Homo sapiens: one gene and its partner. The protein of the gene in region 1 interacts with the protein of each later gene in a pairwise test. Each region holds a gene or a part of one and is shown on either strand. Other genes may lie near its edges. The genes, in order: UPF3B and UPF1.

Region 1 (3,813 bases):
AGCCCACAAATTTTAAGTGATAGGCAGATCGTTTCTGTTGGGACTGTTTTTATGTAGTACTTGGAATGACAAATACCTTGGTCACCAAAGGAGAGATCCATTGCAGGAATAATTTTGCCTTGAGCCTGAGAATAACATACTTATGATGGTACAATTATCTTGCCATTAGAGATTAATAACAAGAATTATTTGGCATTTGATTTAAAAATCTAAAGGCCTTATACAACCAAATAGTGAAGTTCCATCTCTACTGAGTAGGAACTCTGTATTTAATGCCATATTTACGCATGTTCAAAAATGCCATTGTTTTTTACATTGCTGCTATGAATCTCTCGAGAATACCTCCAAGTGTCGGATAATCAGAGAGATTCTTAGGCAAAATAGAAGAATTTCAAGTCTCAGAGTGAAGGTATCACACAAGGTTCATCTCAGGGTGAAGGCATCATGTAAATTACTAAGCAAAAGGCAAAGCACCACAAGACATAAGCACAAAGCATTTTGGCACACAGACAGCCACTGCAAATGGTGAGTCCAAAATGGACACTGAGAAGGCACCAGTGTAAAATGAGGATACCATGTGCAGGTTTCATTGGAAGTGCTCTTATTTCTCCAATGAACATCCTTATTAGAAACCAAGGTGTTCATTACTCTAATAAGAACATTAATGAATGTCTCTAGCATGGCTGGCTCTACCTTCTGCCTTGCTGATTGTTAGGAATAGCAAGTCAAGTCACTTGTGGCATAGCAGACAGAGAGATTGCTGGAAAGAATTAAGATGAGAAACTCCATCCTCCCCCAAGCCCCTCATCATCAGTAATGAGCCCCGTAGAGACTTAGGGAACCCTTGCTACATAAACTGCTGAGTTTTCAGGAAATAAAATAAGGAGACCCTGCCACCCTCTCTGTGAGATTTTCTTTGACTTTATCTGAAGTGCTAGGTACTAGTACTTCCCCAGGAAATATGTTGAAACAAGGGCTGCCCAAGCCATGCCCTTAGAAGGGAAGTGGCAAGGTTGGGATCTTTCTGCAGGTTTTCTTCTTCCCAAATGCAATGCATGAATCCGAATCTGCTGCTCACAGATTCCCAGATATATGCAGGAAGATACTACGGGAGTCATGTGAGAGGGAAAGGCACATATTGCAGGGTATTTATCCCTAGTCCTCCCACAAGGCAGCCAGTTATGAGAAGCATATAAGAAGATGAGAAAGAACTATATAGGCATGGTTGTCCTCTGGCTGTAGGTCAATGAAGCTTCTGGGCACACAGCAGAGCATCAGGAAGTCACCTGGGCTTCCTTTTAAAGTAGAAATTTATAATAAAATAGCTCAGCTTTTAAGAAGACTCAAGTCAACCTGAAGGGGTTTTCAACAAGTAACACTACCACCACCACCACCAAAAGGACTTATTAGCTAAGACCTGTGTGTGTGACATGATACTAGATGCTCTGTATCATGTACTTGGTCCTTACATTTTTCTGATTCACAGCTTGTAACAGAAACCTGTGTACCTGAAGACAGTGGAAAACAAACAGATGAGGTAACTTCATGTATCAATTATGAAGAAAAAGCTGAAAAAAAACCATAAATCATGCCAGCCAGCCCTAAGCCCTCATTTACTATGAATTTAGAGGACAATAGTCTAAAAATCCAACATTTTCAATGACAAAAACAGCACAGATCTGCACTGAAGAAATAACATACTACTTTATCCTTTTAAATGATCTTAAATTTAAAAACTAATACTATTACAGGAAAGATTTTTATTGGATCACTTCCCCCCAAAAGAGAACAAAAACAAAACAAAAAATTCATTTACACCAACACAAGACGCATGCATATTTAAAGAAGTAGATACGTGCAATTTTTAGCAACATGCAGTCAGTTTCAACATTCTTATACCTTAATCTTTGGTTCATCCTTTAATTTGTCCCTTTCTGGAATTCTGTCTATCTTCTTTAGCTTTTCTATATCTTTCCTTTTTCGTTTCTCTTCTTCTTTCCATTTCCTCCTCTCTTCTTCTCTTTGTCTTTTTCTTTCTATTTCTCTCCTCCTCCTTTCTTCTCTCTTTTCTTCTCTCATTCTCTAGAAAGAAACATCAACACAAGCCTTCAAATAAAATAATCATCACCAAAACCCTAATAAATCCTGAAGTCATGGTAGGCCCCAACTGAATAATCTTTCCTTCCTACTTTCTACAAAGTGGCATTCTACCACCGTTATCCCCACTCCACCCAGAAAACGAAAGACAATGAAGACCAGAACCTGCTAATATTATTCTTCCACTGCTGCCTTACTATCTCTCCAGAGGCTTTCAGAATATCAAATGAGTGTCTCTGGGACAACCTAAGAACATTCCACGTTTGTAGAGTGAACTCCTGGTCCAACAACCAGAGTGAAGGAGCAGGCTAGAGAGTGAGACCAAGAAGGCAAATCCTTAAAGAGTAATGGTGGAAAAAGCAGCTATTTCTCCTCTAGAAACCCAATGCTCTTAAAATGTTTATAGAATGCAAAGCAAAGAAATTAAAGTATTGAGAGAACTATAAAGACAAAAGATTTACCTGCTTGTTTTTCAGGAAGCTCAAAAGTGGGGTTGTCTTTTTAGCTACATAAATGTAAACAGATTATTAATCATACTTATCAACCCCTAGAAACGATTCCATTTTCTGACATTCCCTGCCAACCACCCAAGGTGGGAAAACATGTACACCCCTTATGCAGAAAGATCACAATTGTAATATCAGAAAGAAGTTTTACAGCATTCGATTTCAACAATACGGGATTAAAATACCTTTTAAAAAGTAAAGAAATTCAAATTAAAACAACAAAATAATTTATTAAAAGAGTCATTCCCAACTGATGAGAATTAAGTACTTAGGACATTCTCTTGTTTTACTGATAGGAGTGTAAACTTGTTCAACTGGAAGAAGTTGGGGGGAAGGGGCTAAAAATATCTAATCCTTTTGACCCCATAATTCCACTTCTGGGAATTTATTCTAAGAAAGTTACCAGAAATAGGCTTGTACTATCCATCTATTAATAAAAGTCAAGTTTTGGAAGAATATTTTTCATTTTCAACATTCTGAATAAGCTATTGGCCTTACAGCCATCTTAAAACACATATTCCTGGCCGGGCACAGTGGCTCATGCCTGTAATCCCAGCACTTTCAGAGGCCAAGGCAGGCGGATCACTTGAGGTCAGGAGTTCGAGATCAGCCTGGCCAACATGGTGAAACCCCGGCTCTACTAAAAATACAAAATTGGCCGGGCGTGGTGGCGGACACCTGTACTTCCAGCTACTCGGGAGACTGCGGCAGAATCGCCTGAACCCAGGAGGCGGAAGTTGCAGTGAGCCGAGATTGCGACACTGCACTCCAGCCTGGGCGACAGAGCAAGACTCCATCTCTCACACACACACACACACACACACATACACACACACACACACACACACACAGAGAGAGAGCGAGCGAGCAAGCAAGCAAAAAAAACAAACAAACAAACAAAAAAACCCCACATATTCCTTAGGATAAATTCCTGAGTAGAAATCCTGGGTCAAAGATTATGCTCATGTTTAGAGCTACTGATACAGTAGTGACAGCCTATTACTGAGAACCAAGATCCAAGCTAGAATTCCTCAAGTAGTTTTCAATTTTGCAGTAACTAATTTCATTTTTTCGTATTTTCAAGTCAAAATTTTTTTAGGAATATGAACTTATTACTAGAAAATACCAATTGACCTTCAAAGGCTTACCACTGTCTAAACATTCCTTATCAGTCATCGAACTTTTTGTATTTATATTACATTTGTGTGAA
Region 2 (3,813 bases), on another chromosome or scaffold:
TGGCTGGGTGGATACGTTTGGAGAGAAGACCTGCTGTCAAGAGAGTCGGCCTTCCAGGCACCGGGGCACACGCGGCCCCACAGGGCCCCCAGCAGGCCGGGGCACTGACCCGATGCCCAGCTCCTCTAGCCCACCTCACGAAGCTGTGGGGGGACCCACCCAATACTGCCCACCAAACAAGAGGGCGCCTTAGAAAGAGGGAGTAACCAATGACAAAGCCATGGTGACCTAGAGGAGAACCACCGCGCATATGAGCCGGAAGGAGCACCAGGCTCTCTCCCTGTGCTGGGTGGAGCCACAGGCCAGGTCCCCCCAACTTCCAGCTGGTGAATGGGTCCTTGCTGTCTAGTGTTTTTTTTTTTCCTTTGGAGACAGAGTTTTGCTCTTGTTGCCCAGTGGCTGGAGTGTAATGGCGCAATCTCGGCTCACCACAACCTCCTCCTCCCAGGTACAAGCGATTCTCCTGTTTCAGCCTCCCAAGTAGCTCAGATTACAGGCATGTGCCACCACGCCCGGCTCATTTTTTTGTATTTAGTAGAGAGGAGGTTTCACCATGTTAGGCTGGTCGAGAACACCTGACCTCAGGTGATCCACCTGCCTCGGCCTCCCAAAGTGCTGGGATTACATGTGTGAGACACCATGCCTGGCCTGATGTCTAGTTTTATGTGGGATGACAGAATGGACACCTTGTTCTCGGGGTCCCTTCTGCTATCATCAGTTCACAAAAGTTGTATTTTAGAACCAAAAATAGTGGACAGGACCAAAACTTACAGCCTCTCAGATTAAACAACTTGACAGACACACACAAGATTTATTTTGAATCAGACCAGAAGGGCCTGGAAAAATACGTCCTGCTGGGCTGAGGCACAGGGGCCACAGCAAACCCCCAGGACACGGAAACAAAGATCTCTCCAGTGAGACATCGTTTCTCAACTGCTGCTCAGAGTCCTCTGACCTCTGGCCCTGGCAACCCCCAACCCTAGCCCCAAATTCCCTGGGAAGTGAGGACCGATGAGCGGCTGGGCAGCATGCAGCAGGCAGCCTCCCTACCTTGCTCTGGTCAGGGCCACGTTCAGACGCCTGGGGTCATTTAAAAAGCCAATGCCTTGGTGCTCGTTGGCCCGCACACAGGACAGGATGATGAAGTCCTTCTCGCGTCCCTGAAAGGCGTCCACACTGGCGATCTCCACCTCCTGGAAGGGAGCTTTGTGGTCACTATCAGCCAGCAGGCTGCCTTCCCAGTCCCCCCAAAATGCAGGAAACACACCAAGACCCACCCTCAAATCCCACCCGGGAGCTTGGGGCCTGGCGCCTGCTCACCGCACCTAGGGGCTGTCCTGGCTCTGCTGCCATTTCGTTTTGTTTTCTTTTTTTAGAGACAGGATCTTGCTCTGTCACCCAGGCTAGAGTACAGTGGTACAATCTCAGCTCGCTGCAGCCTTGACCTCCCAGGCTCAGCTGATCCCACCTCAGTCTCCTGAGTAGCTGGGACCATAGACACATGCCACCATACCCAGTTATTATTTTTTTTTGGTGGAGGCAGGGTCTCCCTACGTTGCCCAGGTTGGTCTGGAACTCCTAGCCTCAAGCGACTTCCCTGCCTCAGCCTCCCAAAGTGCTGGGACTCCAGGTGTGGGCCATGACACCTAGCCTGTTCTCTTTTAGCCACGGAGATTTGTTTCTCAGCACTAAGAGCACACGTGCTCATCCCAGAGAACCTGAGCCGTGCTCAAAAACAGAACAGAAACCACTGCCATGTGGCCACTCAGACTCAGCACTTGGGCTCATTTCCTCATGGAGGCAGAGCTGTGCCTCCTCCCCACACACCCGCAGTGGGTGTTTCATCCGGGTGTCAATAAAGGTGTGAACACCACGGTCTCCACAGCACAACATCCAGTGTGTGGCAGGCACAGACCACTGCCGTTCCACCTTGGACTTGTTTCAACCATCCCGAGAAAACACCTTGATGTGCCAATCTCAGCCCATGTTTCTGATCCCTGTGATGTATTTCTCAAAGTCTCTGTCCTGATCATGTGGAATTTCGCAGGGTCTGTGGGGATGTGCTGTCTGTGCCCTCCCCAGAGGGTGGGCCAGCTGGTGCTTCCTGGGCCATTCTGAGCTCCAGCCAGGACGGGCCCCTCTTGGGGGGTAACTTAAAGGTCAAGGGTCAATACCCTTGCATGGCCCAGGAGACCAAGTGTGCCCGAGGGCGCAGCGCACCTGGTAGAGCTTGGTGTGCAGGGAGCCGCTGAACTGCATGTACTGCACCAGGTAGGAGCGCTGGCCCTCGTAGGGCGTGATGATGCCAATCTGGTCCGGCTTGGCGCCTGCCTTCAGCAACTTCGTGGTGATCTTCTCCACGTTCGCAGCCTCGGTCCTAAGAAACCCAGGCTGTCAGTGCTGGGCTCCACCTGTGGGATCCCGAGCCCTGAGGCTGGAGGCCGTGAGGGGTGCAGACACAACACCCTGCGGGAAGGCAGCTGCCATCACTGGCGTTTGCACAGCTGAGCTTCCCCAGCCTTCACCAGGGGAGTCTCGAGGGGCAGAAACGGCTGCCATGTGGGATTAGCAAGTATCTGCCCAATAAAAAACAAGTACAATGGAAAAGGAGGCAGAAACAACACGGTTTAGAGTCTAAACAGGCTAAACAGGAAATGAAGGCAAAAAAAGTTTCAGTCCCATGTTAAAAATAAGTAGAATGGGTCAACAACCTCTCAAGCTGTCCCCAAGACCTGCAGACGCCGGTGGGCCTGTCCCTGCTCACCTGTTCAGGTAGGAGGTGCCCGAGCTGGCAATCTCCTCTTGGCCCTGGGTCACGTAGAAGAACATCGGTTTATCGGGTTGGGGCCACTGGAAGTCAAATCCCTTCTTCACACGATCCGCTGTGAGGGGAGGGAAAGAAGTAACACTTCAAAAGCCCTAGCCCGCCTCAAATGAGTTCAGACACAGGGCAATGTAGTTGCTACGCTACAGTGCTGCAGGTCCTGGGGCAGGAGACTTCGATCTGTGAGGCCCTGGTGAGGTCACCTGAGCCGGTCCCCTGGCCAGAGATGCCCAGGATTGGGCAAGGCTGAGGAGAGGCCACCGAGAGCACCATGGCCAGCACAGAGCTGGCTCAGCCCCTGAACAGGGAACAGGGTCTCAGCCAGGGCTTTCTTGCAGCCTGGATCTCTGCCAACCCCAGGATACAGGATATTCTCCTGCTTCCTTCCAGAAGCTTGCCTTAAAGGCGCCACAGCCCCTACAACTGACTTGTGTGTGACACTGTTGAGCCAACAGTGTCCCCCTGCCCTGCAGCCTTGTCCATTCCTGCTGAGGGCCTGTTGACCGGTGGCTCTGCCTCTGGGCTCCCTCCTGGGCCGGGGCCCAACACTGCAGCTTGGGGGCCGGGGCGTCCTGCCATGTGAGCAGCCACTTTCTTCGGGCTCTTCATGCTCATCTTGGCTTTTCTGGGCCCTGTTGCGTTTCCTTAAAACTGTAAAACCAGTTTCTCAATTCACAGGTGCCCTCCTCACTCTACTGGGAGCTTCCATCAGTGGAGAAAACCGGTGTTTTTGCACAGCACCAGCCTGACATGGACAGAGGAAGCCAGACACGCCAGGACACATCATATGATCCCACGTCGAGCTGAAAATGAGGCCAAGTGGATCACTGCTGTTACAGCGAGCACAGGGGCCGCCGGATGAGCTCAGAAGTCCCTCAGCCCAGGGGCTGCTGTGGATGCGCACCCCTGGACAGTGGCCACCTGCAGGGATGAGGCGGCTTCTCACAGCTGGTCAGGTGGTTCTGGGTTCAGGTGCTGGCTATCCAAAT

What was found.
Region 2: the proteins of UPF3B (region 1) and UPF1 interact in binary tests that used the Homo sapiens proteins (3 or more experiments, as listed by UniProt).

What each region holds. Positions count from the first base shown.
Region 1 is NC_000023.11:119,839,177-119,842,989, forward strand, and holds part of UPF3B (regulator of nonsense transcripts 3B), read right to left. Parts: intron 2,603-3,813; coding exon 2,559-2,602; intron 2,083-2,558; coding exon 1,900-2,082; intron 1,509-1,899; coding exon 1,470-1,508; intron 1-1,469. UniProt on the Homo sapiens protein: Involved in nonsense-mediated decay (NMD) of mRNAs containing premature stop codons by associating with the nuclear exon junction complex (EJC) and serving as link between the EJC core and NMD machinery.
Region 2 is NC_000019.10:18,859,390-18,863,202, reverse strand, and holds part of UPF1 (regulator of nonsense transcripts 1), read right to left. Parts: intron 2,883-3,813; coding exon 2,765-2,882; intron 2,378-2,764; coding exon 2,221-2,377; intron 1,194-2,220; coding exon 1,051-1,193; intron 1-1,050. UniProt on the Homo sapiens protein: RNA-dependent helicase required for nonsense-mediated decay (NMD) of aberrant mRNAs containing premature stop codons and modulates the expression level of normal mRNAs.